Linked DNA regions of Homo sapiens. The protein of the gene in region 3 interacts with the protein of the main gene of each other region in a pairwise test. Each region holds a gene or a part of one and is shown on either strand. Other genes may lie near its edges. The genes, in order: SPTAN1, COLEC12 and EXOC1.

What was found.
Region 1: the proteins of EXOC1 (region 3) and SPTAN1 interact in a two-hybrid assay, tested with the Homo sapiens proteins (2 studies listed by BioGRID and IntAct).
Region 2: the proteins of EXOC1 (region 3) and COLEC12 interact in a two-hybrid assay, tested with the Homo sapiens proteins (2 studies listed by BioGRID and IntAct).

What each region holds. Positions count from the first base shown.
Region 1 is NC_000009.12:128,625,587-128,629,237, reverse strand, and holds part of SPTAN1 (spectrin alpha chain, non-erythrocytic 1), read right to left. Parts: intron 3,470-3,651; coding exon 3,260-3,469; intron 2,848-3,259; coding exon 2,551-2,847; intron 2,235-2,550; coding exon of another isoform or gene 2,148-2,234; intron 1,853-2,147; coding exon 1,740-1,852; intron 1,314-1,739; coding exon 1,296-1,313; intron 114-1,295; coding exon of another isoform or gene 51-113; intron 1-50. UniProt on the Homo sapiens protein: Fodrin, which seems to be involved in secretion, interacts with calmodulin in a calcium-dependent manner and is thus candidate for the calcium-dependent movement of the cytoskeleton at the membrane.
Region 2 is NC_000018.10:347,138-350,788, forward strand, and holds part of COLEC12 (collectin-12), read right to left. Parts: intron 1,027-3,651; coding exon 928-1,026; intron 205-927; coding exon 1-204. UniProt on the Homo sapiens protein: Scavenger receptor that displays several functions associated with host defense. Promotes binding and phagocytosis of Gram-positive, Gram-negative bacteria and yeast.
Region 3 is NC_000004.12:55,860,076-55,863,726, forward strand, and holds part of EXOC1 (exocyst complex component 1), read left to right. Parts: intron 1-335; coding exon 336-466; intron 467-3,651.

The DNA.
Region 1 (3,651 bases), on a different chromosome or scaffold from region 3:
GTGCATCAGTAAAGCCACAGTGAGGTAAGAAGAGAAATAAGGAGAAAAACCTTCCAGACAGATCATCCCCAACTTCATACTGATAGACACGAATGACCCGACGATATGCTATGCTATTCAAAGAAAAGAAACCAAATGAATACACCAAAGGGAGGGGAGGCAAGAGCACACTGCAACAGACACACACAAAGCCCAAGCTGGCAGGGCGCAGGCAAGGGCAACCTGGTGCCCGGCGGGTACCTGGAGGCAGCAGGCCCAGTGGTTCACCCCAGGCAGCTCACACTAGGAATGGGCAAGATGGGCAGGGCTTGGGAGGAGCCATAAGGTGAGGGGAGCGTGGCACCTCACGGAGACAAGAGCAAGACCAGCAGACACAGGCATGGGGCAGGGAGGGGAGTCAGGTGGCCAGGGTGTCCTACGGGCACAGGCCGGAAACTGCGATCCCTACGTCCCCAGCTGCTCTGCCATCAGAATGTGTGGCCCGGCTGGATGGGTCTATTTCTCCCCTGGCCGCCTATACAGGCTTGATGTGCCTGGGTGCAGAGCCTCAGGAGTGCAGGCCAAGCCACTCCAGTCCCAGCAGCCCTGGCTTTCACAGCAGGCTTGGCAGATTACAAAGGTGACCCGGCCAGGCAGAGGCCCCAGGCCAAGCAGAGAAGTCCCTGCCGGGACTGGGCGGGACAGCCCAGCCCTGCTCCTCCCTGGGGCTCCTCCCACGTCCTGTCTATCACATAACGGGTGCATTTTTGCCTTCTATTAGGGCGGACAGTCTTGTTACCCTCCCTGACCCCAGGAAAGTAAAGTGGCAGCCTCAGCTACTTAGGGGGTGTCAGTGCCCAGCCCTTCTCAGCTGTGGACTTACTGTACCCTGCCTGAGCCCCCAGCACTGCCATCTGCTTCATGCCCACTGACCACTGTTGGACTCGCTGGGGAAGCAGAGGTGAGAGCCCAACAGAGCCCGGTGGCTGGACAGGCACGGGGGTTCTTAGGGCCTCTGGACTCCAGCTCTGGCCTTCGTGCTTCATCACCTTCCCTACCCAAAGTGAGCCCTTGGAATCGCCCAGTGAGGCAAGGACGGCTCCCCCTGGCTTGAAGGCTCTATCGGGGACCAGGGACCATGGGCTATGGGGCAAGGCACACACTCCTCATCAGGTGACGAGAAGGGTGGGAGGGGAAGTGCAGCCCGCCCTGGGCAGGAAGGCCCATCCCGGGATCCTCCACAAGCCAGGCCACGAGGGGCAAGCGCACGAGACCCCCACATGACAAGCCCAGAGAAGGAAGAAAACAATATTAACCCATCGAGGAGGTATGTCCTGTGGAGAGCAGATCCAAGCAGCCGGGAGACAAGGTGGTGTCCGGACAACAGCAGCAATCGGGGGGACAGAGAGAAGACACAAGAAAGAAAGGAAAACAAAAGCAAGAACATCAGTACCCAACGCACAGACCCTGCATCGTCTGTCACCAAGTCATGGCTGGGGCTGACCACGCGCCCTGCATGGTCCCACTCAATCCGGGATCTCTAACAACTTGATGTCTGGGACATGCAGCACTGAGAGGCTGCTCCACCTATGCCCCCACTCCCGGCTCCAGAGCCCGACCAGGCGTTGCCAGCCCAGCTTTATTCCCAGGCTGCCTCTGGTTTTACACAAAGCACCACCACCTCCTTGGGGCTGGAAGCTCCCCAGGGCTTAAGTACAGCAGGGACATGCTGCTGCTCCCCGGCCCCAGCGGGCTGGCACCTGGTCTCTTGGATCCACTGGTGGAAGGCGTTGGCGTGCTGGGCAAACTCCTGGCGCAGCTTGTCGTTCTCCTCCTGCCGCCGCTGTTCCTTCTGCAGCTCCAGCTCCCTCTCCTGAGGGCCAAAGGGGGGCAGATGCTGTGCGCTGCTGTGGCAGTGACACCAGCCCCTCCTTCACAGATGGGCTCAGGGTGGTGGTGGCCTCCCCACAAGGAACCTCCCCAAAGATGAGAGGAGGAGGCTGGGAGACATGAGGCCGGCTCAGAGCACTTGGTAGTTCTTTCTCTGTTCCCACCCCCCAGGGGCTTCAAGGAAGAGGCGGACCTGGAGGGAAGCGACTGGTCAGTCAAGCAGGGAGTTGCTGGACTGTCAGAAATGGAAACTTCTGGCTGGGTACAGTGGCTCACACCTGTAATCCCAGCACTTTGGGAGGCCTGGGCAGGAGGACTGCTTGAGGCCAGGAGTTGAAGACCAGCCTGGGCAACATAGCAACACCCTGTCTACAAAAATTAAAATAATTAGCCAGGCGTGGTGGCACGTGCTTGTAGTCCCAGTTATTCAAGAGGCTCAGGCAAGAGGATCACCTGAGCCTGGGAGGTTGAGGCTACAGGGAGCCATGGTAGCACCACTGCACTGAAGCCTGGGTGACAGAGACCCTGCCTCAAGAACACAAAAAGAAATGAAACTTCTGATGAAACCATGCTCCTCCATCCTGCTCGTCTTGTCGTGACTCAGTTAAGTGTGGGCTCTGAGCAGGGCCCAGAGAGGGCTCTGGGAGGCCGAGCAGCTCCTGAGGGCAGCGGGAGGTGTACCTTGATGATTTTCTGTAGGTTCCTCCAGGTCTCCTCCAGGGCCTCCATGGTAAACCAGGTGTAGGGGTTGGAGGCTACGCGGAAGCTCTTGATCTGGCGGTCCAGCTCGGCCAGCTGGTTGAAGTCAGCCTGGGCAGAGCTGAGGGAGGAGCGGAAGGCGTCGTGGGCCTCGCGCAAAGCTTTGATTTCTTCCAAGGAGTTGCAGCGCACGGGGTCTGTTAAGTCCTCCTCTGCATTTTCAAACCAGCTGTTGAAGGCAGAAGCCTTTTTGGCGAAGGTCAGGAAGAGGTCCTCCACCTGGAAGCAGAAGAGACTGAGTTGGCGGAGTCGCCAGGGCTGGACGTGCCGACGCAGTGCAGGAGGTGGGGTGCGGGGTGGTTCCTGGGAATCAGAGGCGCACACAGCCTGCTGGGAGCTTAGCTCCCCTCTGCTCCTGTCTCCTGCTCCCCCTTCAAGTCTTCACCAGCCTTTTTTCCCCTTCCTACCCTTTGCCCTTGTCTCTAGTCTGTCCTGCGTGCTTCTGAATGGCGATCTCACAGGGCCCTCTCATTTGCCCTGGTTTTAATTGATGCCAGCCACACCCATGTTTGAAAGCTCTGCACTGAGCTCACAGCTTCCTCAAGGGGGAGTGGCAGAGCTGGGCAGACAGAAGGTGGGCGTCCTTCCTTGAGCTGTGGGCCAGCTAAGCTTCACGTGGCCCCATCCTCACCTTGCGGAAGTGACTCTGAGCCTCCAGAAGCTTCTTCTTGCGGGCGGCTGAGTTGGCCAGAAGCTGGCTCCACCTCTTCATGAGGGAGGCGTGCCGGGCCTCGATGGCCTTGGACTGAACGTGTTTGGCGGCGAGAAGCTGATCTTTGAGGGCAGTGATGTTGGCAATGCCTTCCTGCTGGAAGGCCTGCAGCCCAGCGTCAAAAGTTTCCTGAACAAGGAGTGACAAGCCAATTTGTGGTGACTCCACAGGACTGGAACTTGCTCTTCCTAGGCTCAGATGGCACCAGCATGTCCCCCAGATGCCCAAGCCAAACTGTCCACCTGGACACTGCTGAGACTCAGTCACACATGCCCCCTTTCCTGCTCTCCTTCAGACCGCAGATCACTGCG
Region 2 (3,651 bases), on a different chromosome or scaffold from region 3:
AAGAGTTATTCTCCAAAGTTTCTTTCAATTGACTCTGCCTGTCCACCAGAGCATCCCCGCTCGCCTGTAACTTCTCCAGCGTATCCTTGTTCTTGCTGGTTTTTTCTGTAATCTCACGAAGTTGCTGACGGAGATCTAGAATGTCTGATCTGAAGGTGGAGAGTTCTGAGTTGGTGCTGATAGCTTTCTTCCCAGTTTGGTCACCTGGAATAAGAAATATCTGTGACTTATATTGGTGGTATGGAGAAGTGTTCAGGCAAGGCCAAAGATCCCGAACACACTTAATCGGTATGCACTGTATTTTAGATGCAAAATTGGCAGTATAAGCGGACAGCTCTGCATTAGTAAAATGTACATATCTATTAAAACTGGGTCCTGGGGAATCGGAAAAGAAGCTCAGAACTAGGAATGACAAACTTGGCTGAACATTTTTCTCAAAGAGGGAGGGGGAATTTACTAGATTTTAGGGCAGTGGGCAGGCTGTCAAGAAGAAACTAACCTTTTAAATTTCCCAAATTTTTTTTTAATGAAAGCAAAAATCAAGGAATAGAATATGCTAGGATCTTTCACTTTATAACTTAATTTCTACAATTCTATGTAGTTTAAAGTATTTCAAAAATGCTCAGTAAATTCCTATTTATGTGACAGTTTTTAATAAAGGGTATTTGTGTTTTTTTTCAGTCAGGATTGATCTTCAGATATTATTTGGCACATAATAGTTTTCTTGGCAGGACTTAATTCCAAAACTGACCCTTAACTTTAAAATTTAAGCATTTGAATTAAATCATGAGGGGAGACTCAACATGCAACACAAAAATTGAATGTCCTTCCGGGTGAATGGGGAGTTTATAGCAACATCATTCTAAGAAGCTGTGGTCATTTATGTAGAGTCAGGGGATTTCATGGTTTAGTCTTGTCACAGATTACCTAATTTTTTCAGGTCACTTTCCACTGCTGTGAGCTTGTCATCATAGGTTTGGCGAGATGTTTCCATGCCACCTGTGACATTGTCCATTTTCTCTACAACTAAGATTTGGAAAATGATGCATTAGTATACATATCTGCTCATATTTTATTTTTCAGTTTCAAAACAAGAGATCATTTCATTATGGAACAAAGGAAACAGATTGAACGAAAACAGTGTAACTGAAATCAAATATAGGAAAGAAAAGCCATCTTTTTGGAAAAATAACTTACTTGTCACAAAACCCAGGGGTACAATTTACTTAGTTGAGAATTGTATGTTCTTAACTATTCTTATGATTCTGTAATGCCTTGGATGTTTCAGAAATCATTTGGAACTAATTTAAAAATTTTCATGCATTTTAGAAGTCCCTAATCTGCTATTTCCTATATTAATTTCCATAGATGAAGGCAAGGCACACTGTGATAATTTACAAAATGTTGTCACTCATCAGCTTCCCTAACATTCTTGGCAGGTGGGACTCATTTACCTAGAAGAGGATTCCATTGGCAAGGAAAACCCAGCTCAATTCTATACACAAAATCGGCATAGAAAGGTTGCAAAGTCAAGAGTGTCTGCCACTTTCTGTTATGAGTTCCACCACAAGGCCCTGAAAATCTGCTTTTTGTTAGTGACAACTGATTCTGTAGTTTGTCAGTTCTCAAGTAGATGCCTGAGTGGTGTTTCCAAACAATGATTTGCCAAGAAGTATTTTTTGGTAGTATTTTCTTGATTGCATATGATAGGGAAAGTAATGCCACTGATAGGGTTTGGCTGTGTCCCCACCCAAATCTCACCTTGAATTATACTCCCCTAATTCCCATGTGTTGTGGGAGGGACTTGGTGGGAGATAATTTGAATAATGGGGGTGGTTTCCCCTATACTGTTCTGGTGGTAGTGAATAAGTCTCACAAGATCTGATGGTCTTATCAGGGGTTTCCACTTTTGCATCTTTCTAATTTTCTCTTGCCGTCCCAAATGTTAACCCCCAAGACAATGGGGAAAATGTCTTCAGGGCATGTCAGAGCCTTCCTGGCAGCCCTTTCCATCACTGGCCTGGAGGCCCAGGAGAAAATGGTTTCGTGGGCCAGGCCCAGGGTCCCCATGCTGTGTGCAGCCTAGGGACTTGGTGCCCTGCTTCCCAGCCACTCCAGCCATGGCTGAAAGGGGCCAATGTGGAGCTGGGGCCGTGGCTTCAGAGGGTGCAAGTCTCAAGCCTTGGCAGCTTTCATGTGTTGTTGAGCCTGTGAGTGCACAGAAATCAATAATTGAGGTTTGGGAACCTCCGCCTGGATTTCAGAGGATGTATGGGAACTCTTGGATACCCAGGGAGAGGTTTGCTGCACGGGTGGGATGTGCATGAAGAACCTCTGCTAGGGCAGTGTGGAAGGGAAATGTGGTGTCGGAGCCCCCACACAGAGTCCCTACTGGGGCACTGCCTAGTGGAGCTGTGAGAAGAGGGCCACCGTCCTCCAGACCCCAGAAGGGTAGATCCACTGACAGTTTGCACCGTTCACCTGGAAAAGCCACAGATGCTCAACACCAGCCATGAAAGCAGCAGGGAGAGAGGCTGTACCCTGCAAAGCCACAGGGGTGGAGCTGCCCAAGACCATGGGAACCCACCTCTTGCGTCAGCATGACCGGGATGTGCGACCTGGAGTCAAAGGAGATAATTGTGGAGCTTTAAAATTTGACTGCCCTGCTGACTTTGAACTTGCATGGGGCCTGTAACCCCTCTGTTTTGGCCAATTTCTCCCATTTGGAAAGGCTATATTTACCCAATACCTGTAACCCTCATTGTATCTAGGAAGTAACTAGCTTGCTTTTGATTTTACAGGCTCATAGGCGGAAGGGACTTGCCTTGTCTCAGATGGGACTTTGGACTGCAGACTTTAGGGTTAATGCTGAAATGAGTTAAAACTTTGTGGGACTGTTGGGAAGGCATGATTTGTTTTGAAACGTGAGGACATGAGATTTGGCAGGGGCCAGGGGTGGAATGATACAGTTTGGCTGTATTCTCGCCCAAATCTCATCTTGAATTATATCTCCCAGAATTTACATGTGTTGTGGGAAGGACCCAGTGGGAGATAATTTGAATCATGGGGGCGGTTTCCCCCATACTGTTCTCATGGTAGTGAATAAGTCTCACGAGATCTGATGGGTTTCCACTTTTTCATCTTTCTCACTTTCTCTTGCTGCTGCCGTGTAAGAAGTGCCTTTTGCCTCCCACCATGATTCTGAGGCCTCCCCAGCCATGTGGAACTGTAATTCCAGTTAAACCTCTTGTTCTTCCCAGTCTCGGGTATGTCTTTATCAGCAGCATGGGAACGGACTAATACAGCCACACTAAATAAAAGCTTCAGTTCTTATTCATTTTCAGAAGGCAGTAATTCTCTACAGTTATGAATTCAAGTACACGTTTCTAAAATGTTAAATAAGAGGATGTTTCTCCAAAAGTGATTTATGTGAGATACAGCTTCTAGCAGCTTGGGATCAAGTCTGACTGTCCTTCTTAGTATCAATAGCTTAAAAAAAAAGACTTCAGACCGGGCATGGTGGCTCACGCCCGTAATTCCAACACTTTGGGAGGCTGGGGTGGGTGGATCATTTGAGCTCAGGAGTTCAAGACCAGCCTGGCCAACATGGTGAAACCCCATCTCTACTAAAAATACAAAAATTAGCCGGTT
Region 3 (3,651 bases):
TTTGAAATGGTATTTTGCTCTTTCAAGCCTCACAGACTTTACTTATGTCAATCATTCTTTAGATTTTTACCTCATACTTTTCTTTAAAACTGGTCTGAATTTATTATTAATATATCATTCCTTTATTTTTCAAGGAATCTCCTCTGATCTTCTAGTCTGACTTAGATGCTTCTATTAGGATTCTGTGCTTTCCTCGGTCATAGCACTTGTTGCAAAGTATTACACCTCTTTTAGTATCAGCTACTAGGCACCTGAAAGCTATACTTGCAATGAGTGAATGAAGAATGAGTGAAAGGGGTAATATTTCTAATAAAAGTGTGCGTTTTACTCAACAGTGACAACTGAACGCCCTGTGCAGGTTAAGGTGGTCAAAGTCAAGAAATCCGATAAGGGAGATTTCTACAAAAGGCAGATTGCATGGGCCCTTCGAGATCTTGCTGTGGTAGATGCCAAAGATGCTATCAAAGTAGGTTTTTCTCAGTTCTTTGACCTGTGTTCAGAAAGCATCTTTCATTTTATAACATGGTATTACATATTCTAAAATGATCTAAAAACAAATTAATATATATGTTTGTTTTCTTATTTTTTTGCTTTTTTTAAGCTATAATTATGTTTGTGCACAAGCTACATAAACTAGAGAAAAATTACTTTGACTGTATACATTTCTGTGTTTAGATTAAGTATAATTTGTATAAAATCTATACATAGTATGGATTTTAAAGTGGTGTGTCATGAGTTTTTTTTGCTTGTTTGTTTGTTTGTTTAATCAAAATCATATAACCAAAGTGATCCTTCCTTAGTCTTCATGAGTAAACATAGAATCACCAGCTGGGGCAGCCAGACTGGCCTTTTGAGGCCACCATGGCTTTGATGTTTGTGGATCAAAAAAAAAAAAAAAGAAATGATAGTGGGTTACATACCTTATTTTAAGGAATGTAGATAATAAGATCTATGAAGATATAAACTTACACGTTATAGATAAACCACACTCAAACTCCAAGAAAGGTGATTAATGTGATAATCACATTAAAGGACCACCTATGTTCCTGACAGTTCAAAGCTTTCACAGCAATACCCTTTTTTCAAAGCAATCAAGTTGGCCTCCTTTGATTAAATTAGGTGCTTCCTCCCCCTGGCCCTCTCTCACTCTGCCCTTCATCTTTCTCTGCAGCCCTAACACACCTCCATAGCACAAGAGAATACTTTGTACCACAACTACTTGTATGTCGATGGGATGAACATAATAGCAAGGCTTATACTAGTGAAACTACAGGTGCTCTTTGACTCTACAAATCTCATACATTTACTAAAAAGGCACAAAGTAAAAACAACAAAAAACAAAAAAACTGCCTGTGTAAAGCAATCTGTTAAAATAAAATTCTGATTTTACCCTTACTTTGGTACAAACCTCCAAGGATCAAAAATCTGGACAAAATGACAGGTAGTTGAGTTGGGTGCAAAAAAAATGAAGTAAGAACAATTTGAGGAGAGCCCTCTATATCTGTATAATTCAGATTTCTTCCAAATGTAAATCATGCCTTTTCTTTAAGTATTCTAGGCTTACTGGCCCTTTGTTTTATCCCTAAGGAGCACCCAATGCTTAGAAAAATGTGAAATGTAGAAACAGGATTTGACAGAAATTTAGAAAGCTAGAGATTGGAAAGAAAATTATAATGGGATGTTTAAAAATAATTTAGGCCAGGCGTGGTGGCTCACGCCTGTAATCCTAACACTTTGGGAGGCCGAGGCTGGTGGATTGCCTGAGCTCAGGAGTTCAAGACCAGCCTGGGTAACACAGTGAAACCCTGTCTCTACTAAAATACAAAAAATTAGCTGGGCGTGGCGGCACACGCCTGTAGTCCCAGCTTCTTGGGAGGCTGAGGCAAGAGAATTGCTTGAACCTGAGAGGCAGAGGTTGCAGTGAGCCGAGATTGCGCCACTGCACTCCAGCCTGGGCAACAGAGTGAGACTCTGTCTCCACAAAAAAAAACAAAAAAAAACTTCTGTAAGTAATTTTTATTACCATGGGGAGGGATCAAGAGTGGAAACTTTTCTGGTTGTTTTCTGTTAAGACAAAACACTTTAAGGGTTTTTAAAACTGCACCTTTATTAAAAAACATTTTTCCCTTCAGTAGTTTTGCACTTCGTAACCCTGTTGACTTGCATAATTCAGTAACATTGCTGAATGCTTATTTGAATGCATTCTCACAGCTGATGCCTCTTGCAGACTTGCTTAATGGATTTTTTTTTTTTGCATTTTATGTAGGCACCTTGGTGTGTGTATGCTATATATGGATATAAAACATAAAATTTTTATACATAACTTAACATTAGCCATTTAGTATCACACATTGATTTGTGAGTGTTGCCACTGGAGCACTCAGCTTCTTTTATGGTATTATGGGAAATATTCCCAGGGAAGAGATTATTTCCCATCAAGTTTCATATTGGTTGCCAATACTCTTGTTGTGTTTTTTTGTAAGTAATAATGCAATTACCTTTTCATTGTATATGCAGGTTTTAAATTTTTGACGCTTCAATTCTGTTTATTAAGCTATAAATTGAACTAATTAGTAGTTCCATGCTGCTGTAATATGATTGTTGTACCAAAGGTCAAGTCCTGATTCCTGAGATACTCCAGTTCTTCACAGTGAAAGTCTGATATAACTTCCCTTACTTTAATGTATTTACATTTCCCCCAAATAACACTTTAAATGAATCAAATATATTATTATTCTTTTACCCTGTAGAACATTAAGAATATTTGAGCCTATTTTTTAATTCCTTGGATGTGAAGTATACATCCATAAGTTTGTTTGTTTGTTTGTCTGCTTGTTTGTTTTGAGACAGGGTCTCACTCTGTCACCCAGGCTGGAGTGCGGTGGCACAATCTTGGCTCACTGCAGCCTCCACCTTCCGGGCTCAAGCCATCCTCCCACCTTAGCCTCCCGAGTAGCTGGGACTACACGTACATGCCACTACACCCGGCTAATTTTTGTGTTTTTTGTAGAGAAGTGTTTTGCCATGTTGCCCAGGCCAGTCTCAAATTCCTGGGTTCAAGCAATCTACCCACCTCGGCCTCCCAAAGTGCTAGGATTACAGGCGTGAGCTACCAAGCCCAGCCTGTTTTTTTATATAATAGTCAAGTAGTTCTATTCATTCAAGGGAGAAATATTAGCCTGATGTGGATTATTGCTATAATGTGGCTTAAGAGACTTGAAGAAACTATAGTGTAATTCTCTCAGATTGGTTGAGCTTCTTTATCACATGAAAGAACGTTAGGCCAGGAACAGGGCTCATGCCTGTAATTCCAGCACTTTGGGAGGCCGAAGCAGGAGGATCAACTGGATAACATGGGGAGATCTTGTCTCTACAAGAACATTTTAAAAATTAGGCATGCTGGTATGTGTCCGTGTCCCCAGCTACTCAGGAGGCTGAGGTTGGGAGGATTGCCTGAGCCCAGGAGGTGGAGGCTGCAGTGAACCATGATTGCACCACTGCATTGTAGCCTTGGCAACAAAGTGAGACCCTGTCTCAAAAAAATAAAGAACTTTGAGACCTAGCAGCACTTTTAGCTTTCAAGATATCTTTAATCATTCCTTATTTTCAAAATAGAAAATAATTAGGCGCAATCTCTGCTTTTCACCTCAC